3 linked regions of the Homo sapiens genome follow. The protein of the gene in region 2 purifies or fractionates together with the protein of the main gene of each other region. This does not show direct contact. Each region holds a gene or a part of one and is shown on either strand. Other genes may lie near its edges. The genes, in order: DNAJB8, FCSK and RNF123.

Region 1 (4,107 bases), on a different chromosome or scaffold from region 2:
GCGGACAGCAAATCCAAAGAAGTGTTCCACTCAATTCTGGTAAGAAAAATAGGAATTGATGATAAATATTGATTACTGACTGTAGTGGGTTGAATGGTGGCCCCCAAAAAGATATGTTCCTATCCTAATCCTTGGAACCTCTGAATGTGAGCTTATTTGGAAAAAGGATCTTTTCGGATGTAATTAAATTAAGGATGTCGAGATGAGATCATCCTGGATTATCTGAGTGGGCCCTAAATCCAGTGACACATGTCCGTATAGGAGATGGACACTGACGCAGCTGGAAGCTGGGGGCCAGGAGGGTTCTCCCTGCAGCCTCCAGAGGGAGTGCGGCCCCACTAACACCTCGATTTCAGACCTCTGGCCTCCAGAACTGGGGGAAGAGATTTCTTTTGTATTGAGCTACCCAGTTTGTAATAATTTGTAACAGCCCTAGAAAACGAATCAGGTGAGTGAGGTAACCAAATATTCTTAGGCATTTATATTCCTTTAATTCTTGTTCTGGTGTTGGATCATATATAGAAACAGCAATTCACAATACTGATTAATATCTGTTCCTACCTTCACCTCACCCCACTCCAATTAAGATCAAAACCATGCTAAACCACCTACTAACCACACCAATAAAGAGCCTAGATGTTTGGGTCACCAAGTCTTAACTAAAGATAGCCTTCCTGCCTGCCTTCTTTCCTTCCTCCCTTCCTCCCTCCCTCCTTCCCTCCTTCTTTCCCTTCCCTTCCCTTCCGTTCCCTGCCTTCCTTCCCTCCTCCCTCCCTCCCTTCCCCCTCCTTCCTTCATTTCCTCCTTCCTTCCTTCCTTCCTTCCTCCCTTTCTCCTTCCTTCCTTCTTTCTTTCCTTCCTCCCTCCCCTTCCCCCTTCTCCCTTCCCTCCCTTCTTCACTCCTGGCTTCTTTCCTTCCTCCTTCCTTCCTTCATTCCTCCCTTCTTCCTCCTCTTCCTTTTTCTAGTCTTCATCCCTTTCTATTATCCTCCCTCTCTCTCTTTTCTTTCAGTGCTCATGGGTGCTAGGTTTCAGGCTCCTAGCAGGGGACAGTGTGTGTTCTAACCAATCCCAAATGCCAGGAGGAATGGAGACAGACTGTAGAGACACTTTGTAAACCCAGCCTCCAGTGACCATCGCTGTCCCTCCATGCAGCTTATCAAAAGCACGACTCGCACCCCCATGCTGGGCATCCACCCACCTACACCTGCTGACACATGTGGCTTAGCAGAGGAGTTGAAGAGCAGAACTTCTCCACTGGATGTAGCTACAGATGAACCTGATTCTTTATCTCTGTGGCTGGATTTTTGTCACTATGTCTCGGTTAGCAGTTAGCACCTGCTGTCCCTTGCAGGCTTGTTCCTGGGGCGGGAGAAAGATGCTTGCCCTGCACAGTTCTCCATGATGGCGGTGGCAGTGGGAGAGGCACTGCTGTTGACTGTGTTGCTGGTGGGGAGAGGCACGGTGGGTGTCCATGGAGATGGATAAGGTGTCATTATATAGTAGAGGTGACCATGGGAGCAGTGTTGATGTGGAGGTAATGGTCATGGTGGGTGTGAGGGGGAGAGTAATTATGGGTGATGGTGGAGTTGATCATGATGATGGTGATGCTGGTGGTGACAGCAGCAAGGCTTGTGCTTGAGAGTAATTGATGATGGTAGTGGTGGTGGTGATGGTCATGCCAGAGGAGATGGTAACAGCGAGCCTTTGTTGTGGTTGGCAGTGATGGTGCAGGTATGATGAGGAGGTGATGGGAATGGCTCCTAGTGAGCCATTGGTGTGGTTGGCAGTGGTGACAGTAATGGTGATGATGAAGGTGAAGGTGGTGGAGGTAGCAGAGGTTGTATCTTGTTCGGCTATACCACAGTGACAGCTTCCACCTCTCAGTGGCTCACGACAAACATCTAGTTCCCCCCACTTCACTCACTGGTGCCTACAGGCAGCTGCCAGGGCCCCACCTCCCATAGCTTCTCACTGTGGGTCCCAGGCTGGAGAATCAGCTCTGACCTGCACACCCCTCTCTCATGACAGTGCCACTCAGAGACAGCAGGAACTTGGGCTGCCTCTGAAAGCTTCTGTTGGGCCATGATGTGTGGCAGTCTTGCTGCATCCCATGGTCAAGGCCAGTATCCATGGGGCAAAGAATGTTTCCTTCAGGAAGGTTCTGCAAATCTCAGGGCAATAGGAAGAGAGGCCTGAGATTCCCATGGGGAAGAGGGAGTGAGCAGTTCTCCAACATATGCCAGATGCTCAAGATGGGACTGACAGCGGGGCTGGTAACGATGGCTCTGCTGGGAGCAGTGTTGGTGCTGCTGGTGCCGGGGACACCCGTGGTGGTGATGGGATAGGAGGCAGGAATTGTGCTATTAATGGAGGATGGTGGTGAGGGTGGTTGTGGAAGAGGCAATGGTAGAGGGGGGTGCCGAGGGGTGAGAAGGACACAGTGGTGGACATGCTGGTGTGAGTGCCGATGGCGATGGTGATGGCACTGAGGTGTGGGGCTCTGTATTTTCTGTTGCTAACTTGGCATTACACCAACCTCTTCCATGGTCTCCTTGCATCCTGGAGAAATCTGAGGGATTTTCCAGAATCCCATCACCGGTATAATTCCAGACTAGAGCCTGCCAATACAAGGGATTTGGAGAGTGGAAAAGAGAGGCCGTTGCAGGCAGGTGACAATGGTGAGCTTTGCAACAGCTCGGGGCAATCTTCTGCGAAGACCCTGCTTCTGAGCCACAGGCTGAGGCATGGATGGGGAGCTTCCTGGAATACCGTGAGCTCCTCAGCAGCTCCCAGGCAAGCTCTAGAGAGCCGCTCACCTGGGAGCTGCAGGTGAGCATCTCGATTCCTTGTTCCCTGACCGCTGGTCCCAGACTGTTCAGGGTGCAGCGTGTAGTAAATGTCCTCCTCCTTGGTACACATTTGAGGGCTGTGTACTGTGAGGGTGATGGCGGCTCAGATGAAGGTGGTGGTTGTGATGGAGTTGGGTGTGAGGATAGCAGAGAGAAAGCAGATGGTGACATCAGGAAGGCATTGGAGGGGCAGTGGTGGTGGCAGTGATGATGGTGGCAGTCTAATTAGAGGCAGTGGTGGGTCTGGCTGAGGCAGACCCGGTGGTGGTGATGGTGGTGGTAGTAGAGGGGGCAATGACGGTGGTGATGGCAAAGGCGGTGTGAGTGGTTGATACTGGTGGCAGAGCTGATAAGGTGATGTCACAGATGGGATGGTGGGTGGAGATGGAGGTGGAGGAAGTGTGGTGACAGTGATGTGGTGGTGACACAATGCTGACACGGGTGGAGAGCACCGTGGTGACGGTGACAGAGATGATAGTGATAGTGGGGCTGGTGGCAGTGGTAGAGGAGATGGGGATGGGACGCTGGGGTGTTGATGGTGATGGTGACACTGCTGAGGGTGTTGGTGGCCTGACATTGTAAAGGTGAAGCCTGAAGTTTCCATGACGATGGAATCAGGACAGTGGAGGAGGGGTGGTGAAAACAATGTTAAGAGACAAAGGACCTAGTATGATGAGGCATCCAAGAATCCTGTGGCCGCCTCCCCGTCCTGGCCCTCCCTGCCTTGTTGGAGACCCTGGCTCTGGTCTGCGTTGTACTCCCAGGGGAAATTTCTTCCAGCCACTGCCCTGCTCCAACCCTTGTTCCTGGGATGGGTCTGTGGGAGTCAGCCAGGATGGAGACAGGGCTGGAGACCCCCTCACTGCCGCCCATTCAGGGCTGTCTTAGGGCACACAGAACAGACCACTCGGTAGGACTTACGGGAACAGGTGTGTCACCTGGGAGCAGGTCCCACACCTCACCATCAAGGGCATCCTGAGATGGAGGCCCCTGTGGGGAGCTCCCCATGAAGGGAGCTGTGGACCGTGGAGCCGGGCAGTGTGCAGAGGAGTTTCCCTTCTGCAAAGGGTTCAGGCTAGTCTCCTTCCACGCCAGTTTTTGGGGAGCCAGTGGGGAGCATCAGGGGCTCTGAGGCCTCCATAGGGCCTGCTGGAGGGACAGGGACACACAGGCATGAGCGCACACTTAGGCCCCACACGCTCCACCGTCAATTCTGTCAGGCCACCTCCCCTCTTCAAGCCTCTCTGTCCTCATT
Region 2 (3,649 bases):
CAGGACACCACCACTCAGCAACACCCACGCCTTCAGGAAAAGCCTCTGTCAGAAATTGCTCCATTCCCTACTCAGCCCAGCAGGGAAATCCAGAGGGGAAATTCCAGCTAGAGATCCCAGCCAGGCACTTGAGGGTGAAGGCTCCTCCCAGGATGCCCACCAAGCCCTCCCTCCAACTTTGCCACCAATTTACTGTATGGCCGTAGGCACGTCTAACCCTCAGGTCAGCTGCAGCAGGGAGTGTAACTAACAGACGCCCCCAGCTGCTACGATCTGAATCTCCCACCTTGTTTACATGGAGGCCACGCTTTGAACGAACCTTCTCACAACCAGTGACTGAGCACAGCTGGGACACTGAAACAGACCTATTCCTGTGAAATTCCAGACTCCTCTGGCAGGCAGCTTAGAACTGCACTGCCACCTGGGCGCAGTGGCTCACATCTGTAATCCCAGCACTTTGGGAGGCCAAGGCGGGCAGATCACGAGGTCAGGAGTTTGAGACCAGCCTGGCCAATATGGTGAAACCCCGTCTCTAATAAAAATACAAAAATTAGCCAGATGTGGTGGCACGTGCCTGTAGTCCCAGCTACTCAGGAGGCTGAGTCAGAATAATCACTTGAACCCAGGAGGCAAAGGTTGCAGTGAGCCAAGATCACACCACTGCACTCCAGCCTGGGCGACAGAGCGAGATTCTGTCTCAAAAAAAAAGAAGTCCAGGCACGGTGGCTCACGCCTGTAATCCCAGCACTTTGGGAGGCCGAGGAGGGTGGATCACAAGGTCAGGAGATCGAGACCATCCTGGCTAATGCAGTGAAACCCCGTCTCTACTAAAAATACAAAAAATTAGCTGGGCGTGGTGGCGGGTGCCTGTAGTCCCAGCTACTCGGGAGGCTGAGGCAAGAGAATGGCATGAACCCGGGAGGCGGAGCTTGCAGTGAGCAGAGATCACGCCACTGCACTCCACTCCAGCCTGGGCGACAGAGCGAGACACCGTCTCAAAAAAAAAAAAAAAAAAAAGAGGCTAGACGTGGTTGGCGGCTCACGCCTATAATCCGAGCACTTTGGGAGACAGGGGCAGGACTGCCTGAGGTCAGGAGTTTGAGACCAGCCTGGCCAACATGGTGAAACCCCATCTCTACTAAAAATACAAAAATTAGCCAGATGTGGTGGTGGGCACCTGTAATTCCAGCTACTTGGGAGGCTGAGACAGGAGAATCACTTCAACCTGGGAGACAGAGATTGCAGTGAGCCGAGACCATACCATTGCACTCCAGCCTGGGCAAGAAGAGCAAAAATCTATCTCGAAAAAAAAAAAAGATGAAGAAACTGCTGGGTGTGGTGGCTCATGTCTATAATTCCAGCATTTTGGGAGGCCATGTCAGGAGGATCGCTTGAGCCCAAGAGTTAGAAACCAGCCTGGGCAACATACAGAGACCTGGACTCTACAAAAAAAAAAAAAAAAAAAGACGGAGAAATGAGGCACAGAGAGATGAAGTAACTTGCCAAAGCTAGCAAGTGGCAGAGTGAAGTTTGAAACTAAACTTTTTTTCCAGAGTATCTATTTTATTACCTTTTTTTCTTTCTGAGATGGAGTCTTACTGTATCCCCCAGGCTGGAGTGCAGTGGTACAATCTCAGCTCACTGTAATCTCCACCTCCTGGGTTCAAGCAATTCTCCCTGCCTCAGCCTCCCGAGTAGCTAGGATTACAGGCATGTGCCACCACGCCTGACTAATTTTTGTATTTTTAGTAAAGACAGGGTTTCACCATGTTGGCCAGGCTGGTCTCAAACTTTTGACCTCAGGTGATCCACCTGCCTCGGCTTCCCAAAATGCTGGGAATGAGCCACCATGCCCGGCCTCTTTTTTTATTGTCTTTTTTACTTTTTTTTTTTTTTTTAAAGACAGGGTCTCAATCTGTCACCCAGACTGGAGTGTAGTGGTGCAATCATAACTCACTGCAGCCTCGACCTCCCAGGCCCAAGCAATCCTGCTACCTCAGCCTCCTGTATAGCTGGGACCATAGGCACATGCCACCATGCCTAGCTAAGGTTTTCACTGTTTGTTTTCTTTTTAAGAGATTGGGTCTTGCCACATTGCCCAAGCTGGTCTCAAACTCCTGGACTCAAGCAATCCTCCTGCCTCAGCCTTTTTTTTTATTAATTTATTTTTAAATTTAATTAATTAATTTTTAAATTCATGCTCCCCACTACAGGGTCCACTTGCTTAACCACTACAATAAACCTACTTTGTAGAGCTGAAGTACAAAAGGAGGAAATATATGTAAAGCACTCAGTATGTATTATCTATTATAATTATGACAAAGCCTAAACAAATACAAGGGAGGGATGATTTTAGTAATAATAGCCACTAGGATGCCAGGCATGGTGGCTTATGCCTGTAATCCCAGCACTTTGGAAGGCCAAGGCAGGAAGATTACCTGAGGTCAGGAGTTCGAGACCAGCCTCGCCAACATGGTAAACCCTGTCTCTACTAAAAATACAAAAATTAGCCAGGCATGGTGGCAGGCACCTGTAATCCCAGTTACTCGGGAGGCTGAACCTGGGAGGTGGAGGTTGCAGTGAGCCAAGATCACGCCACTGCACTCCAGCCTGGGCGACAGAGTGAGATTCCGTCTCAAAAAAAATAAAATTAAAATTAATAGGCCGGGCATGGTGGCTCACGCCTATAATCTCAGCACTTTGGGAGGCCGAGGCGGGTGGATCACCTGAGGTCAGGAGTTTGAGACCAGCCTGGCCAGCATGGTGAAACCCCATCTCTACCAAAAATTCAAAAATTAGCCAGGCATGGTGGCGGGTGCCTGTAATCCCAGCTACTCAGGAGGCTGAGGCAGGAGAATCGCTTGAACCTGGGAAGCGGTGGTTGCAGTGAGCAGAGATTGTTCCACTGCACTCCAGCCTGGGTGACAGAGTGAGACTTTGTCTCAAAAAAAAAAAAAAGAAAGAAAGAAAGAAAAAAAATTAATAATAGCCACTAGGACTGAGCACTCTGGACCACAGTTAAGGTGCTGTGATTTTTTTTTTTTATCTTGACAACACCCTTAGACCCTGCAAGATAAGTATTATTATCTCCTATTATCTCCACTTCACAGAGGCCAGGAGACGCTATAGTCAAAGTTGCAACACACCTGGGTCTTTTGGATCCTTATTCAGGTGATAGTGATAATGATATCTGGTCCCAAGCAAAGGCACTGAAAGACAGCAAGAGGCCAGGTGCAGTGGTTCACACCTGTAATTCCAGCACTTTGGGAGGCCAAGACAGGCGGATGGCTTGAGCCCAGGAGTTTGAGACCAGCCTGAGCAACATGGCAAACCCCATCTCTACCAAAAAAAAAAAAACAAAAAACCACACACATACAAAAATTAGCCAGGCACAGTGAATGTGCCTATAGTCACAGCTACTCAGGAGGCTGAGGCGGAAGCATTGTTTCAGCCCTGGGGGCAGAGGTTGCAGTAAACTGGCACCAATACATTCCACCCTGGGTAACAAAGCCAGACCCTGTCTGAGGAAAAAAGAAAGAAAGAAAGAAAGAAAGAAACCCTTGAAATGGCCAGATGTGGTAGCTCACATCCGGAATCCCAGCACTTCGGGAGGCCAAAGTGGGCAGATCACTTGAGTTCAGGAGTTCAA
Region 3 (3,649 bases), on a different chromosome or scaffold from region 2:
TGAGCTTCCCTGACAGCCCCCACCCACCCCGACCTGTCAGCAGATCCCTGGGTCTGGCAGCTGGGGGAGCAGCGGTTCTGGCATCAGGTCCCTGGGTGCTCTGGCCAGCGGCTCACAGACCCCCAGCTGGGCCTCACTTCCATGTCATGAGGGGACCACCATGGCCTTGTTCTGAGGCTGGCTCAGGGTCACCAGAGGGTCAGTGGCAGAAGAAGGTTTTGAAAAATGGAGCCCAATCCCTTGCCTGCTCCAGGCACTAGAGGGCCCTTCCTAGGCTGCCTGCAGGATCAGGGTGGACCTGGGTATGGGGCCATGTCTTGATTGTCCTCCTTTCCCCTTGGGTGGCAGAGGAAGGACATCCTTGCAGAGTTGACCAAGAGCCAGAAGGTTTTCTCAGAAAAGCTGGACCACCTGAGCCGCCGTCTTGCCTGGGTCCATGCCACTGTCTACTCCCAGGTGTGCTGGTATTGCAGCTGCCCCTTCCCGACCTCACTGTCTGGCCACGGGTCTAGCAAGATTGTGCCAGGGCCCTTGATGCCCCCACCCTCTCAGGCCTCTGGCACACACATGTCCCTTCCCACACTTCAGACTCCATCACCCCATGCCATGTCCCCTGTACCCCTCATGCTCTGTGGACTGAGGAAGCGCAGTTTCTGGACCTCCAGTTCGCCTCATAGACCTGTCCTTCGAGGAACAAACTCTGTCTGTCTGCCTCCCCTGCTCCCACCCCCTCCCAGTTTCTTGGCCCCCGTCCTTCTCTCCCAGTGCATCAGGGGCTCTGCAGTCTTTCCCGGAGGCACACTCCACCATCTGTGCCTGCCTCTGTCTGACTCATTACCACCCGAGGCCACTGGCTTGTTCCCCACTCACTCATTCACTTGCTCATTCATTCAATAACATGCACTCAAAACCTGGTGTGTGCCAGGTGCTGTCCTGGAACTAGGGACACACACACATTAATAAGTCAGAAAGATGAGCCTCTGCCTTCTGAAGGCACTCAGCCTGGTCAGATACATGGATGGACAGACAGATGGATGGGGCACTCCTGCTGTGACTGAAGTTTCACCCCCAGGCCTCAGACTCTCTGGACTTGTTTCCTCTCCCTGCCCCTCTTGGCATCTCTTCCCTAACCAGTGAGTGCCCTGAGGGTCTCTTCAGGTGCCCAGGTCAGGGTATCTGCTGTCTTCTTGGGCATACCCCTGCATGACTGGGTGATCGAGGCCTTTGGTATCCCCATTTCTATCATCTCTGCTTGCTGTTTCTTCTCATGGCTCTTTTGCAAAACCCAAACCACCTCCACCTTTTTCCCATTCGTGACTCTCCTGCTACCCTGGATGACCGTGCTTACTGCCCCATGACGGGAACTTCCTCTCCCTTCTGCCCTGAGATTTCCTGCCTGCCCACCTCCCTCAGAAGTTTGGCTGCCCTCTCCCACACTGTCTTCTCAAGACCCTTGCCCTCTCATCTCTCTGCCTTTTTTTAGTTATGCTAAAATATGTGTGACATAAAATGTACCATCCTAGCTGTGTTTTTTTTGTTTTGTTTTGTTTTGTGTTTTTTTTGAGACAGAGTCTCACTCTGTTGCCCAGGCTGGACTGCAATGGCATGATCTTGGCTCACTGCAACCTCTGTCTCCCGGGTTCAAGCAGTTCTCCTGGATTATAGATGTGCTACCGCGCCCAGCTACTTTTTGTATTTTTTGGTAGAGACAGGGTTTCACTTTGTTGGCGTGGCTGGTCTCAAACTCCTGGCCTCATGTGATCCTGCCACCTCGGCCTCCCAAAGTGCTGGGGTTACAGGCGTGCGCCACTGTGCCCGGTCACCCATCATAGCCATTTTTAAGTGTTAAGTCTATTCACATTGTCGTGCAGCCAATCTCCACACTCATTTCATCTTGCAAAACTGATACTCCGTGCCTGTTGAACAAAACCTCCTGTCCTCCCTTCCCCAGCTTCCCTGACAGCTCCCACCCATCCCCACCTGTCAGCAGATCCCTGGGTCTGGCAGCTGGGGGAGCAGTGGTTCTGGCATCAGGTCCCTGAGTGCTCTGGCCAGCGGCTCACAGACCCCCAGCTGGGCCTTACTTCCATGTCATGAGGGGACCACCATGGCCCTGTTCTGAGGCTAGCTCAGGTTGCCCCTGGCAACCACCATCCTACTTTCTGTCTCTGAATTTGACTATACTAAGCACCTCATCTAGGAAGAATCATACACTATTTGTTCTTTTGTGTATGGCTTTAGCATAATGTCCTCAAGGTTCATTCGTGTTATAGCATGTGTCAGAATTTCTTCATTTTCCAGGCTGAATAATATTCTGTTGTACGGACACCACATTTCATATATCCAGTCCTTTGCTGATGGACACTCGGGTTGCTTCTACTTTGGGCTACTGTGAATAATGCTGTAATGAACATGGGTTTGCAAAGATCTCTTTGAGACCCTAATTTCAATTCTTTTGGTTATATACCCAGAAGTGGAATTACTGTATCATATGGTAATTCTGTTTTTTATTTTATTTTTAATTTTAATTTTTTATTTTTTTTGAGATGGAGTCTCACTCTGTCACCCAGGCTGGAGTGCAATGGTGCGATCTCGGCTCACATCCTGGGTTCAAGTGTTCTCCTGCCTCAGCCTCCCGAGTAGCTGGGACTACAGGTGCGCACCACCATGCTCGGCTAATTTTTGTGATTTTTTTTTTCTTTTTTTGAGGTGGAGTTTTGCTCTTCTTGCCCAGGCTGGAGTGCAATGGCGCGATCTCGGCTCACGGCAGCCTCTGCCTCCCAGGTTCAAGCAATTCTCCTGCCTCAGCCTCCTGAGTAGCTGGGATTACAGGCATGTGCCACCACGCCCAGCTAATTTTGTATTTTTTTTTTTTTGAGACAGAGTCTCACTCTTTCACCCAGGCCGGAGTGCAATGGCGCTATCTCAGCTCACTGCAAGCTCCGCCTCCCGGGTTCACACCATTCTCCTGCCTCAGCCTCCCGAGTAGCTGGGACTACAGGCGCCTGCCACCACGCCCGGCTAATTTTTTGTATTTTTAGTAGAGACAGGGTTTCACCGTGTTAGCCAGGATGGTCTCGATCTCCTGACCTCGTGATCCACCCGCCTCGGCCTCCCAAAGTGCTGGGATTACAGGCGTGAGCCACCGCGCCTGGCCTAATTTTGTATTTTTTTTTAGTAGAGATGGGGTTTCTTCATATTGATCAGGCTGGTCTTGAACTCCCGACCTCAGGTGATTCGCCCGCCTCGGCCTCCCAAAGTGCTGGGGTTACAGGCGTGAGCCATCGCGCCCTGCAATTTTTGTATTTTTTGTACAGATGGGGTTTCACCGTGTTGGTCAGGCTGGTCTTGAACTGCTGACCTCAGGTGATCCGCCTGCCTCGGCTTCCCAAAGTGCTGGGATTGCAGGCATGAGCCACCGCGCCCGGCCAATTCTGTTGTTTAATTTTTTGGAAACTACCATATCATTTCTACAGTGGCTGTGCCTGTTACATTCTCACCAGTAGTGCATGAGGGTTCCAATTTCTCCATACATATCCTTACCGACACTTCTTATTTTCTGCCCTTTTTTTTTCTTGGTAGACGCAGGGTCTCACTATGTTGCCCAGTTGTCAAACTCCTGGGTTCAAGGAATCCTCCTGCCTCGGCC

Evidence for each region.
Region 1: the proteins of FCSK (region 2) and DNAJB8 purify together in Homo sapiens (co-immunoprecipitation; one large-scale study listed by IntAct). This does not show direct contact.
Region 3: the proteins of FCSK (region 2) and RNF123 purify together in Homo sapiens (affinity purification with mass spectrometry; one large-scale study listed by BioGRID and IntAct). This does not show direct contact.

What each region holds. Positions count from the first base shown.
Region 1 is NC_000003.12:128,464,075-128,468,181, forward strand, and holds the start of DNAJB8 (dnaJ homolog subfamily B member 8), read right to left. Parts: upstream 2,817-4,107; 5' UTR 2,540-2,816; intron 1,363-2,539; 5' UTR 1,202-1,362; intron 40-1,201; exon of another isoform or gene 37-39; 5' UTR 1-36. UniProt on the Homo sapiens protein: Efficient suppressor of aggregation and toxicity of disease-associated polyglutamine proteins.
Region 2 is NC_000016.10:70,457,473-70,461,121, reverse strand, and holds part of FCSK (L-fucose kinase), read right to left. Parts: intron 1-3,649.
Region 3 is NC_000003.12:49,706,443-49,710,091, forward strand, and holds part of RNF123 (E3 ubiquitin-protein ligase RNF123), read left to right. Parts: intron 1-348; coding exon 349-456; intron 457-3,649. UniProt on the Homo sapiens protein: Catalytic subunit of the KPC complex that acts as E3 ubiquitin-protein ligase. Promotes the ubiquitination and proteasome-mediated degradation of CDKN1B which is the cyclin-dependent kinase inhibitor at the G0-G1 transition of the cell cycle.